Homo sapiens: one gene and its partner. The protein of the gene in region 1 interacts with the protein of each later gene in a pairwise test. Each region holds a gene or a part of one and is shown on either strand. Other genes may lie near its edges. The genes, in order: ITGA6 and USP40.

Region 1 (7,282 bases):
AGGCCTGTTGTGAGGATTAAATGAGTTAAGATATGTAAATCGAGTATTATAATCGTTGGTATCATCATTATTATTGATACTTCTTATAGTAGCCCTATAAAGTTAGAATGGTGGTATCTCCACGTTACCTATGATGAAACTTGGACTCTGAAAGGTTAAGTGACTTGCTAGCTAAGTAAGGGGTAGAGCTGCGTTTCAAACCCAAATCTGTGTGGCTGCTGGGTCACACTCTTCTATACCACACTGCCTCCATGCCCTGGTCAAAGTGTTCTTCAAACACAATTTTACTAAAGGACAGAATGGAAATTTGATGTGTGGCAAAGTACATTTAAAGCTTGAATTCTGCATTGGTAATTGTCACACAGGGAAATGAACTGTGTGGAATAGCCAGTCACCTACATCGATGCCTTCCTGAGTCCTGAATGGTGTAAATTGACAATAGTTTTCGTTTTCCTACAGGTTCACTTCTTAAAAGAGGGATGTGGAGACGACAATGTATGTAACAGCAACCTTAAACTAGAATATAAATTTTGCACCCGAGAAGGAAATCAAGACAAATTTTCTTATTTACCAATGTAAGAATCGTTGTGTAGCACTAGCAAAAATGATTCTGGCTTCATGGTGGCTTTGTGTTAAGAAAGTTTACTGGAAACGTATTGAGGACTTTGCCTTTTTGTTCTTGTTTTCTTATTTTTAATAGTCAAAAAGGTGTACCAGAACTAGTTCTAAAAGATCAGAAGGATATTGCTTTAGAAATAACAGTGACAAACAGCCCTTCCAACCCAAGGAATCCCACAAAAGATGGCGATGACGCCCATGAGGCTAAACTGATTGCAACGTTTCCAGACACTTTAACCTATTCTGCATATAGAGAACTGAGGGCTTTCCCTGTAAGTATTGTTAGAGACCAGCTGAGAGGGGAAAAAAATCAACACTGTGTGGCAAATGAGTGGATTGTGACCTAGCGTGTGTTTCTTTTACAGGAGAAACAGTTGAGTTGTGTTGCCAACCAGAATGGCTCGCAAGCTGACTGTGAGCTCGGAAATCCTTTTAAAAGAAATTCAAATGTAGGTGATGCCTTCATATACTGTATTTTACTGTTTTAAATACCATTGCAGTGTCTGTATGCATGGCCTGTGTTAACAGCTATTTATGTTTTTTTAGGTCACTTTTTATTTGGTTTTAAGTACAACTGAAGTCACCTTTGACACCCCAGATCTGGATATTAATCTGAAGTTAGAAACGTAAGAGTTACATCAACCTCTCCATTCAGAATTATTTCATGAAAATATGGGCAGTCAATGAATTGGCCCTGATCTACCTCATAAAAGAAGTCTAATTGTAGTGAGAAAACTGACTGGTAAAATACAACCCTATTGTTTCCTTTTCATTTTCAGAACAAGCAATCAAGATAATTTGGCTCCAATTACAGCTAAAGCAAAAGTGGTTATTGAACTGCTTTTATCGGTCTCGGGGTAAGTGTTTGTGTTTAGCATAACAAATCAATGTTTGAAAGAACCATTTACAATCCTCATTAAAACTGGTGTTTTTTAATTTGACAGAGTTGCTAAACCTTCCCAGGTGTATTTTGGAGGTACAGTTGTTGGCGAGCAAGCTATGAAATCTGAAGATGAAGTGGGAAGTTTAATAGAGTATGAATTCAGGGTAAGTTGGAGCAGTTGGTCTTTTCATTATACCAAAAGCTGACATATACTAGGTATGGTCTTGAGTATGTCATTTTAATAAATCAGCAATATTAATAAGCATTGTAAGTAAATCATGAGTTAAAAATTAGTTTGCCAGCTTTTAAAGAACATACTGGCTTATAGTAAAAATTTTATCCTCCAGGATGGAGAACAATTGTCACTGTTCAGAATCCAGTTCAGTTTAGAATGCGTTATGATTTATTCCTTCCTCCTTTATAAGGTCATCTTTCTCACTGCTTGTGGTTGAAAGAATATTAATGTATGCCTACCTTTCACAAGCCCAGTTTTTGTGGTGAATGTAGATTTGGTATATGCCTGTAGGAAAGGCAGTGACTGGCTCTGAACCATTTCAAAGTAGGCAATCACAGTGACTCTCTGTCCTGTTGAATAAACATAAACATAGGGTACAGAGTCTGTTCGTAACTCACACATGGGTTTAGGTCTGTGTGGCTGAAATCACATTCCTGAAGGCATAGTGACCACTGTGGTGAAAGCCTCAAATGGCAAGCATGGGCCCACCTGACTCCGGCAGAATGAAGAGGCTGAATTCTCCTCTGTGTGTCTCTTAGCATTATAGACACAGCTGGGGCAGGTGGTGGTGGTGGTTATGATCTCTATGCAGGTGCAGCTGGAAAAGAAGTCTTTGGGTTCTGGAACAGTCTCGACACCAAGAGGGCTCTTACCTCCTGTGTTTGGCTTCTGCCGCAGGACGTCACTCTGTTCCCAGCTTGGACTCTCAGATTCATGGCTGTCCTAATAATGGTTTTGCAGAATCTCCTCTGGGACAGAGGCAGCTTCATTTTTGCAGTGGATGGGGTTTTCCAGAAGCAGGTTGTTGGTACACTGCCTTGGCCCAGGACTTGTCATTGGCCAAGCAGGGTGGTTACAGGGCAGTTCACAAATTCACACATGATTTTCCCTGGGCGTATGTTGAGAACATGGTATATCTACACTGCTGATTCTGTTGCATACAGCAGTTGTTCCTAGAACGAGTTAGCTATCAGTTGTCCTTTGACCTTTTTGTTTTTATTTACAAAAATCTTTAGGCACAAGTCTTTATTTTGAATGCCCTATCTATAGTCCATTTTTGGAGCCTGTGCTTTTATTATAGGATTACGTTAGATATTTTAGCTTCTTTCTCTTGGTAAAAGGAGCTGCTACTTAAATTTACATTGAGAAGATTAGACTGAGATAATATGTATTATTTTCTAACAGGTAATAAACTTAGGTAAACCTCTTACAAACCTCGGCACAGCAACCTTGAACATTCAGTGGCCAAAAGAAATTAGCAATGGGAAATGGTTGCTTTATTTGGTGAAAGTAGAATCCAAAGGATTGGAAAAGGTAACTTGTGAGCCACAAAAGGAGATAAACTCCCTGAACCTAACGGTATGTCGGTAGATTTATCTAATGTCTCCATAAATGCAAATTAGAGAAACTAACTTGTTAGGGGAAAATCATTACTGTTCTTAGGAAAGTGGCATATTCTGGCAGGTTGACTTTCTCTTTGGTTGTCACAATTTCTCTTTTCTAGTTGGGTAACTGAGGGAGGCTGAGGCATTTTTGCTGGTTAATGACCATTATAGTACATAAGGCAGAGTCATTCAGTGCTTGCTGAGGCAAATGGTATTTTCTGATGTTTCATCATGACCCAGTATGTTACATAATAAGGAGAACTGGGGGATGCTCCTGGGGTAATAGTAGCTGCTGTTATCCAGGGGCCAGCCAGTGTTCACTCCAAGTAGAACCAAACTCATTGGAAAAGATAATGGCATCTCAGCAAGTAACCTTGAAAGCTTTTTATGCTTATTTTTAAAATAGTAATTATTTATTGTGTACTCATTGTGTCTCAGGAACTATGCTAAGCATTTTGTTTTCATTTTCTCATTTCATTCTCTGGATGGTCCTATGAGGGCGTTTCATTATCCTCACCATTTCACAGATGAGGACATTAAGATTCAGAGAGCAAGTAACTCTCTCAGTCACTCAGGCGTTAAGAGACAGATTCCACATACAAGCCCTGCTCTGCCTGATGTCAAAGCCTGTACTGTTAACCCCTCTCTCTATACTGCTCCATGCTTAGATAACTGGCCTATCATTTGTGTTCCAGTTTGATGAAGGTTTGCATGTTTATTTCTTTTATTTTAAATTCTAAGGTGACTGGGTATGATCAGTGATCAGAGTTGGTGGCTTATAGCATGATCTTCTACTCATCAATGTTAAAAATCAAGATAATCGGTTATTACTAATCTTTGCTATAAGGAAAATGCAATTTTAAAAGTTCTTGTATGGCTTAGTTTTCATTGCTCTGCTCTGAATGAGCTATATAATGGGTCTTTTTGCTTCTTTCTCTGTTCTTCAGTGTCACTTATTCCTTCAAGATGTGCTGACTACCATGTTTTAGGAACAGAGCTGGAGGCTAGGGATACAGGAATAAGATTTGATCTCTGATCTCAGTATGCCCACAGTTTGGTGGGGATACAGAGGAACAAAGAAAGCATATTTCTCTTTCTCTGAGTTTTAAGGTCAGAGTGGGAATGAATTACTTAGTCCTATGAGTAAATCAATAAACTTGAATTTAGAGTGATAATACTTGCTGGTTTTACACTTACTTCTGTGCCTTTGGCAGGAGAGAGGCAAATATTGTTGATTATGTGAATCTGGCACTGTTTGGGAGGATATGCTCAAGAGGCTTGTATGGTAATGACAAAGAATTACATAAATTGGAACTATTTTGGATATAATTTTTTTCAGGAGTCTCACAACTCAAGAAAGAAACGGGAAATTACTGAAAAACAGATAGATGATAACAGAAAATTTTCTTTATTTGCTGAAAGAAAATACCAGACTCTTGTAAGTATTTTTCAAGAGCTGTGAATATTTGAGAGGATGAGGGGAAGGATTTCTTCAGAACAATGTCTTTTGATGACCATTCTTCTTTTTCTCTCTAGAACTGTAGCGTGAACGTGAACTGTGTGAACATCAGATGCCCGCTGCGGGGGCTGGACAGCAAGGCGTCTCTTATTTTGCGCTCGAGGTTATGGAACAGCACATTTCTAGAGGTATGACCTTGGCTTGAGGCTGTCCCATGGAAGTAATTTGCCTTTGCCTAGGACACTTTTCACTTCCCTAATGCATTCACTGTCTCCAAACAGGAATATTCCAAACTGAACTACTTGGACATTCTCATGCGAGCCTTCATTGATGTGACTGCTGCTGCCGAAAATATCAGGCTGCCAAATGCAGGCACTCAGGTGAGAGGTTCCCCAGCTTCATTCAGGTTCAGAACATGTCTCTTTTCCCTGTACCCCACACTCATGTCCTGAAGTCATGTGCTTTGGTGCTCATTTCCCTCATAGCCCCATTACGGAGAAAACTGTCTTAAGGTACTGGCACTGCAAGCTGTATTTTAATAGAATCATTGAAAAAAAGAAGTAAATCTAGGGTCATCCAGTTCAGCAGTGCCCATGGTAGGTTTGAGAACTACTGGCTCAATTCAGAGAATGGGTGCACCTCACAGCCCTCTAGAAACCTGTGTCTTCTACCATCTCTAATGCTGCAGCCATTGGTGTAATGCCCCAGTGATGGCCCATCCCTTGGCCAGCTGTAATTATTAAAAAAGATCTCTTCATAGCTGACTCCTGAACTGAACCTTGTAAGTCCCTGGTTATGCCCCTCAAACAAGTCTAAAATAAGTTCTCTCTCTTGGCCATGTAGCAGCCTCTCAAATAATTGAAGGAAATGGTCATGCCTCCTTGGATGTTTCTTATTCTTCTCAGAGCTTATGCACCCAGCTCTTGAGTTATGCGTCACATTGGGCACAGCTGAACTGGCTCCTGGCCTCTCCCTTCCTGGGCAATTTGATTCCCACGTGGACAGAGCAGCTGAGGTGGGGTCTGCTTGGTCCCACTTACCCTGGGGCCTTTACCTCTCAGCATCTCGGCACCACACTTCTGTCAGACCTGCCTAAAATTTGCTTTTTCAAACCATTGCTGAGCAGCATGTTTGAATTTCTAGCAGCTGCTATTTTTGTGTTAGTGTTCTACTGAAACTTCCAGGTGTTTTCATCAGAATTTGTTGTCAAGCTGTGTTTCCAGTATCCTGTCCTTGAGCTATTTGTAAAAATCTAAATGTATGCCTTTAAGTGTATCCTTACATTTTATGTGATTTGCTTTGGGTCCATTGTTTCAGTTTGCAAAGTAATTCTGAATCTTGCTTCATCATTTGCTTTCTCAACTTTCTATCCCTGAAAGTTTTAAAAACTGAGAAGCATGTTCTCTATGTCTTCATCCAGGTAATGACAAATATGTTGAATAGGACTAGGTGTAGAACCTTGTAGTGAACCAATAGTGAGGGGTTCCCTGTGGGAGTCTAGAACCCACAGGGACTTGTATAAAGATCTCGAGGCAGAATGACTGCATGTCATGGTGGGAATAATGAATGGGAATGTTTTGCAAAAGAGACTGGAGAAAGAAATACTGTGAATTACTGTTCTTAAGTTAATCTGCCAGTCTACTTATGGAAATGTTCTGGCTTCAGTCATTTAGCTAGCTGAAAATTCAGGGAGCCTCCCTAATCATTCTGTTTTCTGAAATATAGCAGTCCTTACGATTTATTATCCAAGCAAGAATACATTTTTGTTTTTATTTAGTTTTTTGAGATGGAGTCTTGCTCTGTTACCCAGGCTGGAGTGCAGTGGCGCAAACACAGCTCACTGCAGCCTTGAATGCCTGGGCTCAAGCAATCCTCCTGTCTCACCTCCTGAGTAGCTGGGACCACAGGCATGCCACCACGCCCAGCTAATTTTTCAGTTTTTTTTGTATAGCCAGAGTCTCACCATGTTGCCCAGGCTGGTCTTTAACTCCTGGACTCAAGCAATCCGCCTGCCTCAGCCTCCCAAAATGCTGGGATTATAGGTGTGAGCCACTGCACCCAGCCCCAGGATACATTTGCCTGAGACAAATGCTGTACTGGGCAAGCTGCTGCGATAAGTGGTATCAACCAGCACTGTCCCGGTCTCTCCAGGACATATCAACAGGCATCATAAGGGACTTTCAAATAAACCACACCTTCCCTAAGGATCCTTTCTCTGCATCTATAAAGGCAGCAGGTATAGCTTTCTATAACTGTAAATCAGCAACTCTGAAAATCACTGAGATTTCAGAGCTAGACAGAGAACACTTTAGAGGGAAGGGACTAACATTAATGAAGCCTTAATAAAATGTCTGCAGCTTACTAGATACTTTATACTCTATCATTCAAACTTCAGAAGAATGCCAAGGGTAAACATTGTACTCATTTTACAAACAAGGAAGCAGACTCAGAGAGGGGATATAATTTGAGACCCTCAATTGAAACCTGTAATTGTCTGACTTCAGGGCTTCTGTTCTTTGACTCTGTGGCACTTGGTCCCCTTAAAGTCCCCAAATCTCAAATTGAGATAAGAAAACTGAATCCAAGGAAAGGTATCTCCCCGTCAGGGTCACCCGACCAGCAAGTAGAGCTGAGACCAGACCTTGGGTCTGATGTCTCCTCTTCAAGTGCTGTCTTCTTCTGGAAGATGATGGAACTCTGGG
Region 2 (7,735 bases), about 61 Mb from region 1:
TGAAATATTTGATTACTATCCTTTGTAGGAGGTCTTGAAATGAGTCAGTGTTCACTCTCTTTTTTTTCTTGTTTTCCATTGTTGTTTTTGCTATTGTAGGTCCGTTACATTTCCATAAGAATTTTAGAATCAGTTTGCCAATTTGCACAAAAAAAAAGCCTGCTGGGATTTGGTTGGGATTGTATTGAATTTATAGATGAACTGGGAGAACTGACATCTTAAAAATTTTGAGTTTTTCAATTCATGAACATGACTGTGTATTTAGGTCACTCATTAAAGTTTTGTAGTTTTTAGTGTACAGTCTTTCACATCTTTTGTCAGATTTAGCCCTAAGTATTTCATATTTTTATGCTATTTTGAGTGGTATTTTCATTCCAATTTTCAATTGTTCATTGCTGCTACAGCTGACCCTTGAATAAAGCGAGGATTAGGGGCACCAACTTCGTGCAGTCAAAAATGAGCATAGAACTTTTGACTACCCTAAAACATAACTACAGTAGCCTACTGTTTGCTGGAAGCCTTGCCAATAACATAAAGTCAATTAATAAATATTTTGTGTAATATATGTATTATATGCTGTATTTTTCTTACAATAAAGTCTGCTAGAGAAAAGAAAATGTTAAAATTCATAAGGAAGAGAAAAGATCTTTACTGCCAGGCGCGGTGGCTCAGGCCTGTAATCCCAGCACTTTGGGAGGCCAAGGCGGGCAGATCACCTGAGGTCAGGAGTTCGAGACTAGCCTTAACATGGTGAAACCCCGTCTCTACTAAAAATACAAAAAATTAGCCGGGCGTGGTGTTGCATGCCTGTAATCCCAGCTACTCGGGAGGCTGAGCCAGGAGAACTGCTTGAACCTGGGAGGCAGAGGTTGCACTGAGCCGAGATCACGCCATTGCACTCCAGCCTGGGCAACAAGAGTGAAACTCCATCTCAAAAAAAAAAAAAAAGAAAGAAAAAAAGAAAAAGAAAAGATCTTTACTATTCATTAAGTGAAAGTGTATCACCATAAAGGTCTCCATGCTCACTGTCTCCCATTGAGTGGGCTGTTGAGGAGGGGTGGGGGTAGGGGGAAGTTGGTCTTGCTGTTTCAGGAGTGGCAGAGGGGGAATTGGTGGAGGAGGTGGAAGGGGAAGCAGGAGAGACAGGCACACTCAGTTTGACTTTATGGAAATACATCATAATTACTGTCTGATAGTTTTGCTTTTTCAATTCTTTAAAAATGCCTGAGCTGTGCGCAGTGGCTCACGCCTGTAATCTCCGCACTTTGGGAAGCTGAGGTGGGTGGATCATGAGGTCAGGTGTTTGAGACCAGCCTGGTCAACACAGTGAAACCCCATCTCTACTAAAACTACAAAAAATTAGCTGGGCGTGGTGGCGGGCACCTGTAATCCCAGCTACTTAGGAGGCTGAGGCAGGAGAATCACTTGAACCTGGGAGGCAGAGGTTGCAGTAAGCCAAGATCGCACCACTGCACTCCAGCCCAGGTGACAGTGCAAGACTCTGTCTCAAAAAAATAAAATAAAAATAAATAAATAAATAAAAATGCTTGCATACAGTACTAATCCTTCTTCTACTATTTGCTTTAGTTTCAATGCCCGTATCATAGAAGGGTCCAAGTTGTAAAAGAAGTCAAAAGCAGTCTTAAATAATCAGAACCCTTCTGCAAGATTGTCTAATGTCAATTCATTTTCTGACAGTGCTTCTTCTATATCTTCTTCCTCATTCTCTGGTACTGATTCAAAAGCACTCATCTCCATCAAGTCATCTTCTGTTAATTCCTCAGATGTGGTATCTATTAACTCTTGAATTTCCCCAAGATCTAGATCTTCAAACACTTTATGCCTCTTTTTTTTTTTTTTGGTGCCATATCCACAATCTCTTCCATGACTTCCTTGATAGGCTGTTGTAAATCCTGTGAACTCACACACAACATCTGGAATCTGGACGCAGTTTTCTTCAGCACTAATGTATTGTTTGGGGCTTGATGGCTTTCACAGCTTTTTCTGTAACAACATGGGCTTCTTCAATGGTGTAATCCTTCTGGACTTTCACGATATTCTCCCTGTTGAGATTCTCTTCCATAGTGTTGACACCCCTTTCCATAGAAAACCGTACGTAATGAGCCTTAAAGTTCCTTATGACCCCTTGATCTAAGGGCTGAATTAGACATGTTGTGTTTAGGGGCAAGGAGGCCACTTTGGTGCTCTCATTGCAGAATCTATGGGGTTCTGGGTGGCCAGGGACATTGTCCAATATCAAAAGCAATTTAAAAGGAAGTCCCTTACTGGCAAGGTACTTCCTGACTTCAGGGACAGAGCATTGGTTTTCATGGAACCAAACCAGAAAAAGTGTTTTCGTTGTACAGGGCTTTTTATCATAAAACAAAAAGACTTGCAGCTGGTGTTTATCTTTTCCCTTAAAGGCTCAGGGATTAGCAGCTTTATAGATGGCACATTTGAAAGCACTTTGGTAAATAGGTGTGTAGTGAGAAATACAGTATGAAAAGAATGTTGGGACCATCAGCGAACTAAGAATCAAAATAAAGAATTTCCACAGTGGATGTTGAGAAATCGTGGAAGCTTCTTTAGCAGAGAGGTTTGAGCTCAAAGTGCACCTTAGATGGATAGTGCATCTTATAGTGACGTGCAGGAAGGGGTGTGTAAAACGGGAGTCCACTGAAAAGGCTATCATCCTAATGCAGGTGAGATTTCATGGGGATCTGATAGGAGGAGAGGAAGCTATGGAATGAAAGGATTGTCCAGACAATACTTTGACATGCCATTAGTTTGATTCACAGACGAAAGACAAAGATATAAGATTATATAAATATAATCTTATATCTTTATAAATGTGACCACTCATTCATTCATATTTATAAGATTATATAACTATAATCTTATATAAGGTTATATAACTATAATCTTATATAAGGTTATATAACTATAATCTTATATAAGGTTATATAACTATAATCTTATATAAGGTTATATAACTATAATCTTATATAAGGTTATATAACTATAATCTTATATAAGGTTATATAACTATAATCTTATATAAGGTTATATAACTATAATCTTATATAAGGTTATATAACTATAATCTTATATAAGGTTATATAACTATAATCTTATATAAGGTTATATAACTATAATCTTATATAAGGTTATATAACTATAATCTTATATAAGGTTATATAACTATAATCTTATATAAGGTTATATAACTATAATCTTATATAAGGTTATATAACTATAATCTTATATAAGGTTATATAACTATAATCTTATATAAGGTTATATAACTATAATCTTATATAAGGTTATATAACTATAATCTTATATAAGGTTATATAACTATAATCTTATATAAGGTTATATAACTATAATCTTATATAAGGTTATATAACTATAATCTTATATAAGGTTATATAACTATAATCTTATATAAGGTTATATAACTATAATCTTATATAAGGTTATATAACTATAATCTTATATAAGGTTATATAACTATAATCTTATATAAGGTTATATAACTATAATCTTATATAAGGTTATATAACTATAATCTTATATAAGGTTATATAACTAATCTTATATAAGGTTATATAACTATAATCTTATATAAGGTTATATAACTATAATCTTATATAAGGTTATATAACTATAATCTTATATAAGGTTATATAGCTATAATCTTATATAAGGTTATATAGCTATAATCTTATATAAGGTTATATAGCTATAATCTTATATAAGGTTATATAGCTATAATCTTATATAAGGTTATATAGCTATAATCTTATATAAGGTTATATAGCTATAATCTTATATAAGGTTATATAGCTATAATCTTATATAAGGTTATATAGCTATAATCTTATATAAGGTTATATAGCTATAATCTTATATAAGGTTATATAGCTATAATCTTATATAAGGTTATATAGCTATAATCTTATATAAGGTTATATAGCTATAATCTTATATAAGGTTATATAGCTATAATCTTATATAAGGTTATATAGCTATAATCTTATATAAGGTTATATAGCTATAATATAGCTATACTCTTATATAAGATCATATAGCTATACTCTTATATAAGATCATATAGCTATACTCTTATATAAGATCATATAGCTATAATCTTATATAAGATCATATAGCTATAATCTTATATAAGATCATATAGCTATAATCTTATATAAGATCATATAGCTATAATCTTATATAAGATCATATAGCTATAATCTTATATAAGATCATATAGCTATAATCTTATATAAGGATCATATAGCTATAATCTTATATAAGATCATATAGCTATAATCTTATATAAGATCATATAGCTATAATCTTATATAAGATCATATAGCTATAATCTTATAAATGTGAACGAATGAGTGGTCCGCTGGCCGAGTGGACCCGCGAACTCACCAGCGGACTTGTAAGCGAGCTCACCTTGCCCGCTCCCGCTCCCGCTCCAGTTCCCAAACTCTTGGAGCAGAAGAGTTACATTTCCCATAAGGCCCCGTGCGAGGGGCCGGCGCTCCAGCGGGGCATCCTGGGAAGCATAGTCCACGATCCATAAATCACTTTCTGGAGACCCGCCCTCGCCAACATGGCGGCGCCCAGTTGGGGCGGGTTCGTTCGCTTCGCGTTTTGGCCAGGGCGGGGGTCTGGGCTTTAGGCAGTAAGTGCGGCTGGCGCCCGGGGATCCTGGGAGGGACGTGGGAAGCGTAGGGACAGTGTTGGTGGCCCAGTCTGAGGAGGGCGAGGCGAGAGGCTGCCCAGGCCTGCCTGAGGACGCGGCGCTCTCCTGGAGTCGGGGCAGTGGTTTCGGGCCACGGGGACCTCTGCCTTTTTGCGCCCCTGGGCCTGTGGTGGCTTGGAGGGCCTCGGCCGGCCGTAGGAGTTGGGAATTCAGGAATGCAGACAACGAGCTCGAGGCTAGACTCTCGAGTTGTGTTTTTTTAGTTTTCTTCTGAGGAAAAGAAAAATAATTGCATTTCAGCGCTTCCTGTCATTTGGTACCTATGCTAGGCGCTTTACGTTTCTCATCTCCAAGTGACCCTCCGCCACACTCGATGTGAAACCTTGGGGAAGTCACCTAGGCCCCCAGGGCTAACGATGGGATTAGTGGATACATACTGGAAGGCCTTTAGGCTTGATAATTTTAGTGGCAGTCTTCCCCGCCCTCCGCTCCCCTTCCCCCCTCCCTCCCCAGTGAACTGACTTCCGGCCCAACAGCTTCGGGACTGTACTAAAGTGCTCTAAAAAAAGTTAACTTGATCTGTTTAATTTAAATGTCATAATCTGGTATATAGTACTGAAGGGTGTGACAAGCAGAGATTTTAGAGAGTTGATTCTCAGAATTTAGGGTTGGCTTTGCCGTCCCAGCAGTGGATTAGTTGTGGCAACAGGTTTTCTTTTTTAAAAAAATTAGTGATGTGAACGTGCCTTTTTAAAAACAGCTGTTACTTATTGTGGGCCAAACCCTGTACACTAACTGCCCTTCTTTCGTTATGTCATTGGATAGTTTAAATGACCCGAAGAGACAGATGGTATCCTATTTTACACATAAGAAAACAGATTAACATATCCAGGGTCACACAGGTAGTTAGGGTCCTGATAGGGATGAAAAAAATCTAGATCTTGCTGCCTCCAAAACCCAACTACTGTACATAGAAACAGTAGTCCTGTGTTCTAAGAAACAACAGAATCGACTCCCAAGTGTAAGGTAGGGGGATTTGGGGAAAATTTATTTTAAAAATAAAAGCATTTATATGTCACTTTTTTTAAGGGTAGTATTTAGTTTCACAATGTTTGGGGACCTGTTTGAAGAGGAGTATTCCACTGTGTCTAATAATCAGTATGGAAAAGGGAAGAAATTAAAGACTAAAGCTTTGGAGCCACCTGCTCCTAGAGAATTCACCAATTTAAGCGGAATCAGAAATCAGGGTGGAACCTGTTACCTCAATTCCCTTCTTCAGACTCTTCATTTCACACCTGAATTCAGAGGTATGCTATGTTACGTACATTTAACTAGCAATATGTACCATCTTCTTTACATGTAATTAATTATGCAAAATCACAAATAGACCAATTATCTTAAAGATATATTCTACAGTATGTGTTTATTGTTGCACATATAAGATATAAATTGGTAATTCCCTCTGCAGAGAAATGTGAAGCTTAATCTTAAATATATCCTGGGTGATGACAATAATGTTTAGTAAAAAAATAAAGCAATATATTTCTTTTTTAATTCCTGTAATTTAAAGTACAACGTAAAGACAATTGTCATAAGTATCAGTCTTCATTATTGTTACACTGTTTGAGTTTTAAGATTTCTCTAGAATAACAAACACTTAAGCCAGAGTTATCCAACCAATTATATCTACCTTTTGGAGTGGGGAAGGGTGTCATATTATTTATATGGGTGCACAGTTGTTCATACGCATTTCTGAAATCTGGAAAGCTCACACCCTCATCTGATCTCACCTGAGCTTGTTTGGCTTCAGAACCAGACCTGGTGTGAGGCTATTTACAGTTTTTAGTTATCTCATGTGGGTGAATGTTCATACATTCATTACAGGAATATTAATCTGCTTGATTAATGGAAGCTGGCCCAGACCCTGCTGGGAATGTAACATTTTATATATATATAAAAAACACTTTTTTCATATTATCTTTATAAACTCTGGAAATTCTGAATTCCAAAGACCCAGAGATTTTAGGTAAGGGATTGTGTGCAAGAAACAGACCCACCACCCAAATTAGCTAAATTTAAAAGGGGGGTTATTGTAAGAATATAGGGGATCTCAGAAATCAACTGCAGGAAGCCAGCCTGACCTTACTGGACCCTTGATTTCTTGCCCCTGTTTCTCTCTATATATTTCTCCCATACCCCATCTCTGCAAACCAGCTTCCTCCACAAGGGTCCTAGGAGCTGTGTTCCCGTGAGCTCAGTGTGAACATTACTTTGCCTTCACCTGGCCCTGACTGGGGTCCCCAGCACTACATGGCTTTGTAGCTCAGCTCTCCACAGTGTCTCCATATTAGGAGGACAGACAGCCTGACTCATCCTATCTGGTTTGCCATGTTCCTCTTCCCTACTGCCACCACATTTATCAAATCTTTGTGGTTCTTCTGTTGCTTCTAAGCTTAGAAAGACTTGCTGCCTCCAGAGATTTAGTAAATATTTACCGCTGTTACCTTCCTAGGAGCAATTTAATGGGTTGGATTGCATGTGGGATTTAAGTGGTACCTCTTAGCCTTGACTCGATCCCCTCCATAAAAATATCTCCCTGATGCAATCAGTAATTCCACCAGTAAAAATTGCCAGCACTAATAAGTACATTTCTAATAGGGATAACACTTTTCCAGGTTTTAATATAGTTGAAGTTAAAGGACAACTCGAAGTAGAAACGTAGCCTCAAAGGGACTGAGGAAGATGGTGAAGTGTAGGGCGGGTCATGGAGCGTACCATTAGGCAAGAGTAGTACTGAGAGTCCCAGGCCAACTTCCTCTCCAGCAGAGGGGATTGCTGGCCAAGCATATGATTTGACATCTTAGTGCACAATGTGCACTGCTTGTATAGCTTAGCCTGAATCCTGATGGTGACTGACAGGGAGGTATAATTTGGAAAGAATAAGGACTGTCAGAGAACTGGCGGGGGAAATTTTGGAATAGTATTTTAAATAATAGGGCTACATTGGGTTCCATT

Evidence for each region.
Region 2: the proteins of ITGA6 (region 1) and USP40 interact in a two-hybrid assay, tested with the Homo sapiens proteins (one study listed by BioGRID).

Annotation. Positions count from the first base shown.
Region 1 is NC_000002.12:172,486,564-172,493,845, forward strand, and holds part of ITGA6 (integrin alpha-6 isoform b preproprotein), read left to right. Parts: intron 1-459; coding exon 460-575; intron 576-700; coding exon 701-890; intron 891-983; coding exon 984-1,067; intron 1,068-1,164; coding exon 1,165-1,244; intron 1,245-1,397; coding exon 1,398-1,475; intron 1,476-1,562; coding exon 1,563-1,665; intron 1,666-1,975; exon of another isoform or gene 1,976-2,086; intron 2,087-2,921; coding exon 2,922-3,095; intron 3,096-4,460; coding exon 4,461-4,559; exon of another isoform or gene 4,560-4,657; coding exon 4,658-4,768; exon of another isoform or gene 4,769-4,861; coding exon 4,862-4,960; exon of another isoform or gene 4,961-7,282. UniProt on the Homo sapiens protein: Integrin alpha-6/beta-1 (ITGA6:ITGB1) is a receptor for laminin on platelets. Integrin alpha-6/beta-1 (ITGA6:ITGB1) is present in oocytes and is involved in sperm-egg fusion.
Region 2 is NC_000002.12:233,563,648-233,571,382, reverse strand, and holds the start of USP40 (ubiquitin carboxyl-terminal hydrolase 40), read left to right. Parts: upstream 1-4,600; 5' UTR 4,601-4,699; exon of another isoform or gene 4,700-5,036; intron 5,037-5,809; 5' UTR 5,810-5,828; coding exon 5,829-6,027; intron 6,028-7,735. UniProt on the Homo sapiens protein: May be catalytically inactive.